Linked DNA regions of Homo sapiens: region 2 is linked to region 1. A link means that fine-mapping ties the variant in region 1 to the expression of a gene that starts in the linked region. Tissue or cell type: whole blood. Region 1 holds a variant in brackets; the other region holds the start of a gene. All regions are shown on one strand. Distances are between the middles of the regions.

Region 1 (8,110 bases):
TACACACCGCATCTCGAGTGTTTGTTTAGTAAATTAAAAAAATGTAAAATATCTCAGTAAGTTTTATAATGATTACATTTTGAAATATATTTTTGCTATTTTGGATAAAATAAAACTAAATCATTTAATTTCACTTGCTTTTTACTTTTTAAATTTTAAAATTTACATTTTAAATTGCATGTGTGACTTACATTCTGTTTCTATTGGATAGCACAATACTAGATACTATTGGACACCTCTTAATCAATTTAAACAACAGGAGCTACATTTATTAGGTTTTACTATGTGTCCAACACCAAATGAAACTATTTATGTATATAATTTTATTTAATCCTTTCAACTTTTTGATAGGACTCGTTATCCCTGTGTTATAAAGGAGAAAACTGAAGGTCAGAGAAGTTAAGTAACTTATCCATGTTCACACAAGGAGTCTTAATTCAAATCAGTCTTTGGCTCAAAAGTCTGTGCTGTGATGCTTTTTGCTAAAGCAAATGAAGGATTTCCTAATCTCTAATAGACATATAGGTTAATGGGAAAGACAATTTGTTAGCAGTCTGTTTGTTTTGGTAACTGTATATTTTGATAGGATTTCAAATTTAGAGAAAAATTGTAAGAATAGTACAAGGAACTCACATGTACATGGTCCAGACTCACCATCTGTCTATAGGCTAGGGATAGAGAGAGAGAAAAAGAGGATTTTTCCCCTCAAACCATTTGGGAGTAAGTTGCAGACATCAGGTCCATATACTCCAAGTACTGATGTGTGTGTGCTTCCTTAGAACAAAGACATTCTCTTATTTAGTCACAATCCAATGTTCAAAATTAGGAATTTTAACAGTGATATAATACCATTTCCCAATGATAGTCCATATTCAGATTTCATCAGTTGTCCCAGTAATGTCCTTTTCAGCTACTTTCCCCCATTGGTTCAGAGTCCAGTCCAGGATAATGCATTAGATTTAGTTGTCACGTCTCCTTAATCTCCTTTAATCTAGAACAGTTCCTCAGCTTGGTGTGCTGCTTGACTCTGATATTTTTAAAGAATGCAACCCATTATTTTGTAGAATGTTCTTTAGTATAGTTTATCTGGATTCCTTTAGGATCAGAATCAGGTTTTGCACTTTCAGCAAGAATATTACAAAGTGTTCCTGGTCTCACTCAGCACATATTTGCTAGCTGCTTTTAAATATTGTTTATGAGACTTTAGCATAAAAGTAAGAAATAAGTCTTTCAAAAACATTTCTAGATTTGGTCCAAATATTTCTAGAAATTGGTCCAAATATTCCTGTGCAAAACAAGTGTAAATGTTAGGTGTAAAATATAGATAATGATAAATATGGATTATAATAATTATAACATGGCTATATTTTCATATTTTCCTGACCCTGTATAGAAAACAATTATTTTTAATTCAGTCTAGCAATTTGAAAGAAAGATTAGAATATATGAGTTGGCGATGGATAGATAGGAAAAGAGAGTGAGTATAAGGTCATTTAACCACTAAAGATGGTTTAATTTCAAGGCACCTGTTGTTTAGAGTAAAATAATTTCTTTGTTCTCTTTTCTCGTTCTTTTCACTTCAATTCATATGATAAGTGCTTTGATTAGAGTCATCAAACTGCCATTGCCAGATCCACTGCTATGCTGCAAGAAGATGGTGTTTGTTCAGAGTTAGCAGCAAACTCTTATAATCTCATTTCATTCAAATGATGTTTTTATTGCAAGATGTAACACCAGCAACCTAAACTGTCTCTGACAGTCTCATATTTTTCTTGTTTAAGAAACAGCTGTCAAAAGGATCTGTGTGAGCTAAGCAACTGACAAATTACAGGAAAATTATATTTTTAATCAATCACTTGCCTAAAGTCATGGAATGTGGTTTATAGTTATCCAGATATAACGCCATTTAGAAACCTTTTCTTTCATCATAGGGCATCTAGTAATTTTTATGGTTTTCTTCTTATCCTGTGGCCAAAAAAAAGGATGTCTAAGACAAATGCACTTTAAATATAAAGATATAGACTGAAAGGAAAAGTATAGAAAAACATATACCATGCAAAATGTGAGCTTAATAAACACGATGTGGTGTGGCTATATTAATACCAGTCAAAATAAATTTCAAGGCAAGGACTATGAATAGAGATAAAGCACATTTAATAATGACAAAAGGGTCAATTCATCAGAATACATGACGACAAAAGATGTATGTGACCTTCAAAATATACAAAATATATAGAGAAATTCAAAATCCACAAAGAAAAAAATGGCAGTGTTAGAGAAATAGAAGTAATTGGAGATTTTAACACCTCTTGTTCAATAACTGACAGAAAAAATGGGACAAAAAGATGGGTAAGGATATAGATTTGACTATCAACAAACTTGACCCAATTGGCATTTACTGAACAGTGGTAGAATACACATTCACTTTTTAAGAACACACAGAACATTCACCAAGAGGCTATATACTAGGTTCTAAAATGTCTCAATAAATTTCAAAATATTGGCTCCCTCTCCCCCTCCCCCTCTTTGCATGGTTTCCCTCTGATGCCCAGCCGAGGCTGGACTGTACTGCCGCCATCTGGACTCACTGCAACCCCCCCTGCCTGATTCTCCTGCCTCAGCCTGCCGAGTGCCTGGGATTGCAAGCGCGCACCGCCACGCCTGACTGGTTTTCGTATTTTTTTGGTGGAGACGGGGTTTCGCAGTGCTGGCCCGGCTGGTCTCCAGCTCCTGACCGCGAGTGATCTGCCAGCCTTGGCCTCCTGAGGTGCTGGGATTGCAGACGGAGTCTCACTCACTCAGTGCTCAGTGGTGCCCAGGCTGGAGTGCAGTGGCGTGATCTCGGCTCGCTACAACCTCCACCTCCCAGCCGCCTGCCTTGGCCTCCCAAAGCGCCGAGATGGCAGCCTCTGCCCGGCCACCACCCCATCTAGGAAGTGAGGAGCGTCTCTGCCTGGCTGCCCATTGTCTGGGATGTGAGGAGCCCCTCTGCCCGGCCGCCCAGTCTGGGAAGTGAGGAGCGCCTCTTCCTGGCCGTCATCCCGTCTAGGAAGTGAGGAGCGTCTCTGCCCGGCAGCCCATCGTCTGGGATGTGGGGAGCGCCTCTGCCCCGCCGCCCCGTCTGAGATGTGAAGAGCGCCTCTGTCCAGCCGCGACCCCGTCTGAGAACTGAGGAGTGTCTCTGCCCCGCCGCCACGCCGTCTGGGAGGTGAGGAGCGTCTGTGACCAGCCGCCCCGTCTGAGAAGTGAGGAGCCCCTCCGCCCGGCAGCCGCCCCGTCCGGGAGGTGGGGGGGGCAGCCCCCGCCCGGCCAGCCGCCCCGTCTGGGAGGTTGGGGGGCGCCTCTGCCCGGCCACCCCGTCTGGGAGGTGTACCCAATAGCTCATTGAGAACGGGCCATGATGACATGACGATGGTGGTTTTGTCGAATAGAAAAGGGGGAAATGTGGGGAAAAGAAAGAGAGATCAGGATTGTTACTATGTCTGTGTAGAAAGAAGTAGACATAGGAGACTCCATTTTGTTCTGTACTAAGAAAAATTCTTCTGCCTTGGGATGCTGTTAATCTATAACCTTACCCCCAACCCCGTGCTCTCTGAAACATGTGCTGTGTCCACTAAGGGTTAAATGGATTAAGGGCGGTGCAAGATGTGCTTTGTTAAACAGATGCTTGAAGGCAGCTTGCTCGTTAAGAGTCATCACCACTCCCTAATCTCAAGGACCCAGGGACACAAACACTGCGGAAGGCAGCAGGGCCCTCTGCCTAGGAAAACCAGAGACCTTTGTTCACATGTTTATCTGCTGACCTTCCCTCCACTATTGTCCTATGACCCTGCCAAATCCCCCTCTCTGAGAAACACCCAAGAATGATCAATAAATACTAAAAAAATAAAAAAATAAAAATAAAAATAATTTCAAAATATTGAAATCTTTAAAAGCTTATTTAGAACCATAAAATTAAATTAGAAATCAATAACAATAAAGTATCTAGGAAGTCTCCAAAGGCTTAAAAATTAAACTACCCCCTTGTAAAAAATGCACAGGTCAAAGAGGAAATTATAAGCATTAAGAAAATATTTTATACAGAAAAGTGATTTTAAAACACATATCAAAAATTCAGAGATTCTGCTAAAGCACTGACTTAAGAGAGATGTATAGCTTCGAAACCACCTTTGCAAAATTATGATAGAAAGAAAAATCTGACATGGCTGATTCCATCTCACTTCTAACCTCACAGGCTAGCTGTTTTTGCTAATTCCTGGGCATGGGCCAAGCTAACTTTGGGAGAAATTTGGTTTATATTTTAAATAACAATAGCCCTTCCCTAAAACTAAACTGACCTTGTAAAACTAATGAAAGGTCATCAGGTTAGGAGAATGAGAGGGGCTGGAATTCTGCTA[C/A]AATGTAAAGTAGGTAAACAATTACAGCCATTTTCCCGGAGGTCACAAGATTTGCAACTTCCCCAATTACTCCTGCAGATAACATTACTATTGTAGAACCCAAGTTTGGCTTTTTGAAGTGTCTTTTCAGGGTTTTGCACTTCTAACAACCAGATGGCCCCATTTGGACCTGTGACTTAACCAGTTCTGTGGCCCCACCTAGAAGCCAACTCAGCTCATGAGGACCATATTTCATACCACCATCATTGCATCCCCAACCAATTAGCAGCACCTATAGCCTAGCCCCCTGCCCACCAAACTATCTTTGAAGAACCCCTAACCTCCAAGCCTTCAGTGAGATTGATTTGAGTAATAACTTCGTCTCTCACCTGGTGTGGCTAGTCTCATGTTAATTAAACTCTTTTTTTATGGCAATGCCTTGAGTCTCCGTGAACTGATTTTGTTTGTGCAAGAAGAACCCATCGGGCAGTTACAGATTTAAATCTGAAATCACTGACTTGAAATATTTCTTCTTTTAAAATATGTTTTCACATTATGAAACTAAGAAAACATGGGTGAATTAAACTCAAAATAAGTTTAAGGGAAGAAAGAAAGATCAGCAGAAATCAAAGAAGTAGAAAACAGATAAATAAGAGAAAATTAGCAAGGACAATAGTTACTTTTGTGAATAAAATGGTAACATTGATAACCCCACAACAAGACTTCACCTGAGGGTTGATCAGAGAATCTGAGCCAATATGAGTGATACAGAATATGGTAGGAATCTGACCTCATGCAATTGTGCTGTAAACCAGAAATAAAACTCTAAGCCTCTCAGCCAACTGATGGATGTTCCTCTTGGCCAAGGGCATTCCAAAGCAAACCCGAAAAACTATTTAATGCAAGGATGGAAAGGAGTGGGGGTCAGACATGCCTCATTGTAACCTCTTCCCTGTGGAATTCAGGCACAACTGATCAGCATTAACATTAAAACAGAGATTCTAAGACTGAGAGAACAAACTGTTTGTAGCAATAAGATACCAAATTCCAACCTGACTCTAGTATAGTATTGCATGACAAGTAGCAGGCCCTGAAAGAAATCAGTCTTTTGTCCCAAAATATACTTATTTGATATATTTTGAAATGGTCTTGCAAAGCTGTCTCTTGTGGGGGAAATTTACATTCTATAGAGAATCCCCTGTTCTTTCCAGGTCTTTTTCTGATCCTGAAGAGGTTGGCTGAGAGTCTAGCACCTTTTGAGGGTCTGAATAGAAAACACTTGCCATCTATTGCCTCTAAGGGCGGCCACCTAGGAGACTTCATCTACATAAGAACCCTGTTTTCCACAGTCCTTTATCTTAACCCAAACACTCCTTTCTATTGATTCCAGGTCTTCAGATAACCAATTGCCAATCAGAAAATCTTTGAATCCACCTATGACCCGAAAGCCCTCCCACTTTGAGTTGCCTGCCTTTCCAAACTAATGAACACCTTATATGTATTGATTGATGTCTGTCTGTAACTTCTGTCCCTCTAAAATGTTTAAAATCAAACTGTAAAACAACCACTTTGGGGACATGTTTTCAGGACCTCCTGGGGCTGTGTCACAAGCCTTGGTCACTCATATTTGGCTCAGAATAAACCTCCTTAAATAGTTTATAGCATTTGACTCCTACGTTGACAGGGGTAACTGGTTAAACAGTCTATGTGAAACAAGTGCTTTGGTGTCCAAAGCCTATAGAGCCACCAGTCAGGAACAAAACCTGGACTAGAAGTGGGAGAAATCCAGGATAAACTGGAGCCTCGGAGGACCCACTAGGATTCAGGGGCACAAGCTGGAACGTGCATAGGCCTTTCACTGCCTCTGAGCGTCCAACTTCAATGTCTCAAGTGAGCTGCTGGTGCTCTTGTTGTACAGCTGCATAGGTGGCTCAACCAGGGTTGAGAAAAGCTGGAGGCAGAAGCCCAGAAATGAGGGGAGCTGTAGACCTGGCTCTTGCCCCCACATATATGATGAACCACCAAAGAACCAGCAATGTGCAGGAGCTCAGCCACGCCTTCCCATACATCCACTGGCTGCCACTTTATTCTACTGTGAACCCCAAATATCTGAAAGAGGTCTCAGTTAATTTTGAAAGTTTATTTTGCCAAGGTTGAGGACACATGCCCATGACACAGCCTCAGGAGGTCCTGACAACATGTGCCCAAGGTGGTCAGAGCACAGTTTGGTTTTATACATTTTAGGGAGACATGAGACATCAATCAACATATGTAAGATGAACATTGGTTCTGTCTGGAAAGGTGGGACAAGTCCAAGTGGAGAGGGGGTTTCTAGGCCATAGGTCAATAAGAAAGAAATGGTTGCAATCTTTTGAGTTTCTGATTAGCCTCTCCAAAGGAGGCAATCAGATACATATTTATCTCAGTGAGCAGAGGGGTGACTTTGAATAGAATGGGAGGCAGGATTGCCCTAAGCAGTTCTCAGCTTGATTTTTCCCTTCAACTTAGTGATTTGGGGGCCCCAAGATATTTTCCTTTCACACTGTCTTGCACATCTCACATAAATTTCTCTTGGGGACAACCCTGACTCAGAACCAAACAGAGAAGGGAATTCTGAGAAAGGTAGTTTTTGCTTTAGCATGTTGACACAATACCTATCCACACTGATTGAGAAAACAAAGAAAATACAAATTACCAAAATCAGGATTGAAAGAGGTGATATCACTATAGATTTTATAAACATTTATGAAAAACAAGCCCTGGCTCATTCATTGCTCACCTTCAGAATTTCCTGGTTGTGTGTGCTCCTGGGAGAAAGAAAGTTTACATTAAAAAAGAAAAAGACATCCAATTACCTATCCTTCTTGTTTCCTTGCTGAGTTAAATATGCCTATGTATTAAAGCAAAAATTTAAACAATCGATCAATTAGAGTATTAGGATGTACTTTGCTAAAGGATTCTTCAGGCAGCAGAACATGGACAAGTTTCATGGTAGGTTATTTCACTGACAAGCTCAAGGGCAAGAACGGTGAAATTTAAAATCATTAGCCTCTGCGCATTAAAGATTGGTGAGAAATGAGGACAACATTTCAGAAATGAAAATTATATGCCCACAATACTTTCAAGCAGAATTAAACACAATCTTAAGACCCACTTATTGCCGGAAGTGAACATTCTTTGCACATGCTCCAGCTCCCTTGTTTCCTTACAATACAGATTCTTTGCCTTTTGTAGTCAGGATTAAAGGACATAACATCCCTCACTATGCAGAGCGTTGTGCAAATAGTGATCATGAGAAAGGAGCCTGTGAGTTAGGTTTCTGCTTTATTTGCCCATACAAAGAGAACAGAGCCTTCTAGAGTAGCTTTCCCATTGTCTCATTATTTGTCATACAACTCAGCACACACTGGAAGACAATCACAAGGTGGGCACACAGAGGTTTGATCGAGGTCCTGTTACTCAAAGCTCCCCTTTGCCTCTATCTCTATTGCCAATGAGGAAATGTATCTGATCAATTAACTCACACTAGCATACAGAGGTGCCTTTTCAGATCAGAGTATTTCTAAAAAGATATCTGGAGCCGAGCATGGTGGTTCATGCCTGTAATCCCAGCACTTTGTGAGGCCAAGGTGGGTGGATCATGAGGTCAGGAGTTCAAGACCAGCCTGGCCAACATGGTGAAACGCGGTCTCTACTAAAAATACAAAAATTAGCCAGGCACAGTGGCAGGCATC
Region 2 (8,110 bases), 190 kb before region 1:
CTAAGTAGTATAGCTATTCTTTAATTTGAAATGAGTTAAGTTTGGGGAATGATAGCATATTTAATGTACAGCTGGGCACTGGTGCATTCTAACTCTGGCTATGTTCTCTTTTGTGGTTTTGCCTTGGTCTCTATGTCCTTGGGGTGTCTTTTCTCTGTCTCTATACATCACAGTGTGTTTCTGACTTCTCTGCTCATTCTTCTACCAGCACCTCTCTGCCTCTCTGTTTGTCTGTCACTGTTGTCTCTCTCTGTCGTCCTGTCATATTATCAGGCTGCCTGTTTGGCTACAGTAAAACTTCATCAGCCTCCCCTACACTGAGAGCAGAGCTTTTTTGTGGAACACAATAGCATTCAGAAGAGAGAAAAATCTCTTTAAGTGTGCAAATGCTGTCTCATTATCCTGAGACTGGAGGGAGGAACCTCTCAAGCTTTGTCATTTCAGTAAGAAACAAAAACCTTTGAAATTTTTACAATTATCTTCACACTCATATCTCCTTGTCCCCTACACCAGCTAAAAGATGAGTGAATAGCGCTGAGTGCTCGTTGGCTGGTCCATGGAGGGAAGGATCATTTATTGAGATATTAATTCAGGTTCTATCTTTGCTGCTGAAAGAGAATCAAAAAGAATGAGAAGCTTTGCTGTCCTGTGCTCTGGGTCTCTCCCTCCCCCAGGCCCTCAGCTGGGCAAGGAGGCAGGGAGGGCCTATTATACATGCTTTTATACACACACACACACACACACACACACACACACACACACACACAGAAATACATAAGCTTAATCTCTTCTTTTGGTTGAAAAAGTATAGCTGAGTGGGTGAGAGTAATAGCTCCAGAATTATGCAAATCATAGCTCAAACACAGGTTCATACCCACAGATTTACATCCCAGCTGTACTATGTGGCTTTGGGTGAGTTACCTAGATTCTCTTACCTTCAGTTTGTTCATCTGTAACATGGTGATAATGAGGAAGTTACTATGAAAATGAAATGAATCAATTCATTTAAAATATCTAGAAAAAGTGCTTGGCCCCTGGCAAGTACCTGAGAAGCTGGCTCTTATTTTCACTATTACTTACTGACTAATCTTGGAGAAGGAAATTGTTAGTGATTACCCACCGTAAAGCTTTGAACTGGATGACTTCTGAAGTTCTATACTTCTCTAAACACCATGGACACGGGTTTCTCATAAGGCCTTATACTCTTCTCTACTTTTGACTAACAATGGGTAAAAGCCATGATTAGAAATTGGACTGAAAATACAGTGGCTTAACACTTTAAAAAGAAAGATCTAGGGCTCACAGAAGACCAACCAATGATCTGAGTCATGTGGCAAAGAGCACGTAGGGCAGGGTTTGGGTTAGGTATACCGTAGCATTATTAGCACAGTTCACAAACTCTTCTTCCTTTGGGACACTAGTGGCCCCAGGAGGGAATGCAATTTACCTCCGAGAGAGTGACTAACTGGACAAATAAACAAGAGAAGAAAAAAGTGAAGACATTGAAACAAAAAAATTGGCTTATCTGATTTATAAAATAATCTGCTAGAGGGTGGCTGATGTCTTCACAAAGCCTTTCACTTGCATGAACTCCGGGCTGCTGTTGGGAGGAGCATGTTCAAGGGCTCCCTGGCTACTATATCTTTTGACTCTTTGGGAGAGAGAAGAGGCAAGGGCTTCAAATCAGCCTAGAGTTTGAGACTGAGCTATTTGAAATAGTGAGAGGAAAGAACAGTAGCTGTCCTGAACATGCAGAAAGTCTTGACTGATCAGTATCTGCAGGGCAGATTTTCAATCCTTTTAATCCCTTTGAGATGGATTCCACAGGCTCTACTGGGTAGTGGATCCAAGATGGCTGTGTGATCCTGGACAAGCCTCATCTGTAAAATGGCAGCAATACCTGCCCTATCTAACTCATAGAGTGGCTGTCAGACTCAGAGAAGACAACAAGTGAATGCTTGGGGACCTGACCAGTTGTAATGGCACAAGTGGGAAAATGCTTCCCATTCTCGTTCTTTTTCTCTCTCATTCACTTATGTCCCCATATCTGTAGTCAGGCATTTGTGGTATAAATAGCTTGGTTAGGAGTAGAGTGGGTAGCCATGAGCAGGGTGTGGAAGTTAAAATGGCACCTTTGCCAATTCCAGCCAAGCCTATGGCCAACAGCCAGGCCTGGCCTCTTCCACTTGACACTGGCCTGCTGGTGAGACTCACAAGACCTCCTTGCTTTGTAAACATCATCCAAAATTCTTCCATCAGTTGACATCACCATCTAGTGGGGTCTTCTCTCATGGGAACTTCTGCTCAGAGAGCGAATTGCTATGAGTCAGTAGGAATGACTAACAGAGATTCCAGAGAGAAGACACTGCCAGTTCATGGCCTCTTAAAGAAATGAATACATCAGTTAAAAGGCTCTTGTCTGCTGTCTATGACTTTCAGAACAACTTCTCCCAGTTGTCTGACATTGAGAGTAATGGAACCCTTGGGAGAAGTATCAACGTAATTAACAAACTTAGACATAATGATCCCTGATACTTTTAACAAAACATAAAATAACCAAGAAATGTCTACCACTTTATAAGTTCACATTGGAAACACACCTGATATAAATAATGAGTCAGAACAGTGGTTTCACTATTAAAAGTCAGCAGGTTTCATTATTAAAAGTCAGCCAAGAAAACGTGAAAACTTACAGGCTGAAAGAATAATTAAAGGCGATCACTATAGATTTTAAGCATTATTAGTTCTCAAAACTTCTGACTGGCTGATGATGAAGACAAATTCATTCTAATTGTCCTTGATAATTTCATGCTTTTAAAATCTCATGGCAAGACCAACTTGGGAGCCATAGTCCTCAACAGTGGGCATGGTCAGAATGATGGCTGGTAAGAGCAGAGCCCTAATCCATGACAGAATCTGTTAGCCTGCATGGATACAAGTGGGATGATGACTAATGAAGCCACTATTTAGCATTGTATCTAGGATTTCCTTGCCATCTGTAAACCGTGACCCCTCCCTTCAGGCAGTTTTTTAACCTGAGGTGGTTACCTGTTTTTGTTTGCTGTCCTACACTCCTGGCCCCTTGATAGAATTCAACTCTTCTTTGATAACGATTCAGTCTTCCCCTGTTCAAGTGATCAATGTGGGGCTGACCCCACCTCAGCTTCAGAGATGAGCATGTGACCCTGCCTGGCCAATGAGAATACCATATCTCTCTGACCATAGTGATTGGTTAAGGGATGAACATGTGGCCCACAGCTGACCAATCAGAGCTACTGAGACTCAGTTCTATGGTTTCAATGGAAACCACTGAAAAAGAGAAACTCTCTTTTGGCTAGAGTTGCTGTGAGGATGGAATGGGGAACCTGGACAGCTCCAGCAATCTTACTGCAGAAGGTGCTTCTGGGTGGATCCCAGGCAGAGGAATCAGAGGCAAAACATGGAGGGAGTGAACTCCTGAAATCACTTGGGTTCTGAATCCAGCCAAGCCCGAAACCAGCCCTGCCCTGGGCTTTTCAGGTACTTGAGCCAATGCATTCTCTTTTCCTCTTCATCAAGGTTTGTTTAGAGTTTGCATCCCACGTGACTGAACAGAATGGACATTGCTCTTAGCAAGGGACAGTAACCATGAGTCCAAGTCCTGAAACAGAGATGGGGTCCCCTTCCTCCCTTCTCACTGGTTTCCTTCCTCCTGAGTGGGGTCTATCTGAGCCTGGCATTTCCTTCGTGACAGTTTCATTTGCTCCTGGACGGTTCCCTTGCTCACCATCAGCCCTCGGGCCAGCTCTAACACTCAGTTTGTCCAGATAATGTTAGGAACCTGTAAAGAGGAACTCTATGTTGTTCAACTTTTTCTCTCATTAGCACACTGTTTTTCTGTCCCGGGTGATGCAGGCTGAATGCAAAGCAGCAAGATGTGCTGGTTTGAATTCCGTGGCCTTCCTTCATCAGCCTGAGTGTTTGTGTACACACAGCTGGGCTGCAACGTCAGTTTCTGTCTGATGGCTCAGAGCCACAATTTTACCCTGTTATTGATGCCCATTATGTCATTTTAGAAAATGTAGGGATGTGGCTGTCCAACTTATCTGAATATCTGTATATAAATAAATAAATGTACATTTAAATCCATCCTAACTTTGACGTGATCTGAGGGAAAAATGAGGTCTTTGTGTTTTCCCATAGAAATAAGAAGAAAGTAGGTTAATAAACCATCAGTATCACAAGCAATAATGCAACACATGAAATATCATTTGCAAATTATTTTTGCAATTACAATGTTGGTTTTCCATGAAGAGTTGTAGCAGCTGCCTCCTCTCTCAAATAACATATTCACCTGTGGACAGATGGGGAATTGCTAAGATCCCAGCTTATGTTTGTGAAAAGAGAAGCACCACAGTTTAGTGAGCAAGGAGGTTACTAAGCTTGGTGTGCACTCAAAGGCCATGTCTGCACTGTGTGTGATGAAGTGGAGGCTTTGGATACCCATCAGCAAGTTTTATGTTAATAAAATATTTTTTCTTCTATCAAATGCTAAGACCAAAAAGTTTGTCATCTGAATGTAATCGCGTAATTGTCTTGACTCTCAGCTCCATTTTGTGCTCAGAAGAAAGCAGTTGTGTCACGAAATGGAAAGATGAGGTCTAGGTTCAGTAGACCAGTATTGGCATTCTGGGAAAAATAAGACCCCAAAGATAACTTTTTACCATGATTTCACAGACAAATAGGACCTGAGATTTTCTTTTTATGGAGCAAGAAAGCAATGCTTATGAGGACCAGATCTGGGTCTAGTACTACCAAAGAGACTGCAGAGACTTGTGGAGGCATGTGATGGTGTTTCTGAACAATGTTTTTAAATTGTATATGTTTTGTAACAGGAAGAGAGAGATAGGGAAAGGGAGGCGGGAGGAAGGAAAGAAGAAAATAAGAGGAAGGAAGGAAGAATGGAGGAAAATTTCTCTTAATCAGAGAAATAATGAGAGCAAAAAAGAAAAAGAAACCCAGAGAGTCAGAATTCTATTGCAGCATCGTTGGCTAGAGAAAAGGACACTCGGGATTTGACAGGTCGTTGGGAGTGGCTGCTGGGTTTGAGCAGAGTATAACACATCAAGAGCTATGATATACGAAACTGAGTAGGCTTATTTCTTGCATGGCAGAGGAAGGATTAGAACCAATGAGTAGGAAAGAGACTTTGGTTCAGTTTTAAGAACTTTCTTAATAGAGAAATGGGCTTGCCAGTGAGTAGTGAGTTTCTTGTCTGGAGACTTTCCAGCAGAGACCAAACACATATAGGGTACGTTGACAAGGGAATTTAAACATTGAGGAAAATGTTAGACTAACTACTGAGATTCTATGTTTCACATTCGACTCTTGGAAATTAAGCAGTCATCTTAATAGAATACCTGGAAGAATCTGAAGCCACTGGGAACAAATAACCCTTAGACTCATGCAGAGTTCAGAGGAGGAAAAAGCTATGGCAGCAAGAACAAAGCACAAACCAAGTTAACACTTTGCAGCAATGAGGCAATTACTTCCCTCCAAAAACTCCACAGGGAACAATAGTAGGTAGAAGTTAAATCACAAACACTTCCCCTCATTATCTAGGAAATAACTTGAGCTGCCCTTCTAATTAGCATCTGTAAGCAGCCCTGTGCTGTCAGTTCTGGATAACTCTCAGAACCTAGTAAGATGATTATACAAGATGCTCAATCCCATGGTCATTGTTGGCCAGAACACTGCCACCCACACAATGACATGAGTAAGAGGCACTGCAGAAGCCACTTAAACTCCTGGACATATGGGCATAATAACATTTGGAGCTATTGTATAGTTCTGCAATTCAGTGAGCTTCAGCATATTCTGAGAATGAACAAGCTTCCTTCTTATGGTTAGAGTTGCTTTGGCACCTAACTCTCCATGTAAAGAGCCTTGTGTGCAGGGGCAGAGATGATTACATTTAAAATAAAGGCTTACATTTGCATTAATCACATTTATTAGGAAGCTAAGCAAAATCTAAGCTACTGTTTAAAGGTTCTGATGGAAAACATTTTCTCCTTCCACCTGTTCTTGGGGCAATATATTCTATGGACATGGTGACGGCCACTTTCTTCAGGTTGTCCTAGGTAGCTATTTATAAAATCATAGTTATAGAATGTTGGGTCACTTTTTAATGTGCTTATTAAAGCCAAGGAAATAATTTGGCATAACTCCCCAGGCATACTAGAGAAAACCAAGGCATGATCCAAGTAAGAGTCTCAATTTTGCATTTCTCTACTTTCTTCTGGGAGCTTGTCAATATTTGCTATTTGGTTTTCTTACTTTTTTACTTTGAAATCACTATAGGTGTGGGTTGGGGAAGTGAGGATGAGATACACTTTCAAAAAGTTCATACGGGCTGGAAAGGAGATGGGCACCTTAAGTCCCTGGGAGGAATTCATCAAGTATTAGTTATTTTCATGTGTCATGGGTGAGAAGCTTTTCTCCTCTCATCCAAGCAAGCCCAGCCTTTGGTTTTTCCAAGGCAGAGACCGTCTACTGGTCTCTAAGGACTTTCTGTAAACATCTTGTTAATTAGCTGTTAAGCACATTAAGTGAGAAATAAACATGAGTGACTTCATATTTATAGAGTTTGACAGGGGTAAAATCAATTGCTAATTGAGAAGAAGAATTTGAAAAAGAGACAAAAATATACCTAAGGATTTTGGTTTTGAGTCTCTGTTTCTATAGCCTAATTTTTCTCCTGGTTGTATAGACTATCATTTCTTGTTTCTTGGCCTGTACAGTAATTTTTATCTGGGTGCTGAACACTGTAAATTTTACTTTGTTGAGTATTTGGATTTTGTTGTCATCCTTTAAAGAGAGTTAGACTTTGCTCTGGCAGAAAGTTGTTATTTGAGCATCAAATTGTTTTTGTTTTGTTTTGTTTTTGAGGTTTGTTTTTAAGCTTTATTAGAGTGGTCCTAAAGTAGTCTGTAGGGCTAGTACAATGGCATGGCCCTCATGAAGTCTCTACTAAATGCTCTGGGATTTTAACCAGGTCTCTCTACTCTGGCTGGTTGGAGCTAAACTATCTTGCATCCCTGCGTGAGCTCTGGGAATTGCTCAGCTCACAGCTTACAGGTAGCAGTTCTTTGACCAGTTCTATGGAGTTTTACTCTGAAAATACACAGCTCAGTTTTCAGTCAGAGACCCATAGAGACACCCATGCAGATTTCTGGAGCTTTTTCTTTGTACGTTTTTTTCCTCTCCAGTATACTACCTCACAAAGCTGCCTCAGTCTCTCTAAACTATGATCCCTGTCTTGTCAATTCACAAAGACTGCTGTGTTCTCCTTGGCATCGCTTTGGGCACTGAGGTCTGGAAGGTGCCTCCAGGCAGAAATCTGGAGTGGTTGTGGGGCTCACCTTGTTATTTATCTTCTCTCAGGGACTATGTTCTTAATGCTACCTGTTGTCCAATGCCTGAAAGCAGTTTTATATATTCTATTTAGTTTTCTAGTAATTTATGATGGGAAAATATATCAGCTTCCAGCTACTCTGTCATGGCCAGAAATGGAAGTTCTTCATTTCCTAGTCTTTGCATACACATGTTGCACTGTTTCTGCTGCCAACAATTCATCAAACATTACATAGTTGAATAGAAACAGGACCTGGAGGTTGGGGTTGGAGAGGAGATTGTAACTCAGTGGCAAGACATTCATATAAATAAGTCCACCATGGGGAAGAATAATAGAGACGTGTAGTCTGGGCATGGCCTGGCTTTCCCTGTCTAGGACTCTCACACCGATAACCCTCTAAGCTGGGCTTAAACACTTCTTCCCTTTCCCATTATCAATACTGACTCATCCTTGACCCAGACTTACTTTTGTTTATTTGTTGTTTTGAAGCAGTCTTTTATTCTTTTTTATTTTAAACTTTTATTTTAAGTTCAGGCTACACGTGCAGGTTTGTTATATAGGTAAACTTGTGTCGTGGAGGTTTGTTGGACAGGTTGTTTCATCACCCAGGTATTAAGCCTAGTACCCATTAGTTATTTTTCCTGACCCTCTCCCTCCTCCTTTTTTTGAGGGATGACGACAGTTGCTAATCTTGATCTAGTAAATGAATATGGACTG

Evidence for each region. PIP is the estimated chance that this variant, and not a neighbour inherited with it, causes the effect.
Region 2: it holds the start of LINC02930, and the variant in region 1 is the best candidate, but not a certain one, in a credible set for the expression of LINC02930 in whole blood (TOPMed, PIP 0.77).

The regions. Positions count from the first base shown.
Region 1 is chr10:120,795,440-120,803,549 of GRCh38, forward strand. The region is part of intron 2 of LINC02930 (long intergenic non-protein coding RNA 2930); the gene reads left to right. The region is part of intron 1 of WDR11-DT (WDR11 divergent transcript); the gene reads right to left. Among named protein-coding and RNA genes, the nearest start is that of WDR11-DT, 52 kb to the right of the region's middle. RefSeq lists an enhancer at 3,288-3,956. The variant C/A (reference allele first, on the strand shown) is at 4,398.
Region 2 is chr10:120,605,255-120,613,364 of GRCh38, forward strand. LINC02930 (long intergenic non-protein coding RNA 2930) reads left to right here and starts at 3,328. Exons shown (of 5, transcript XR_002957103.2): 1 at 3,328-3,519.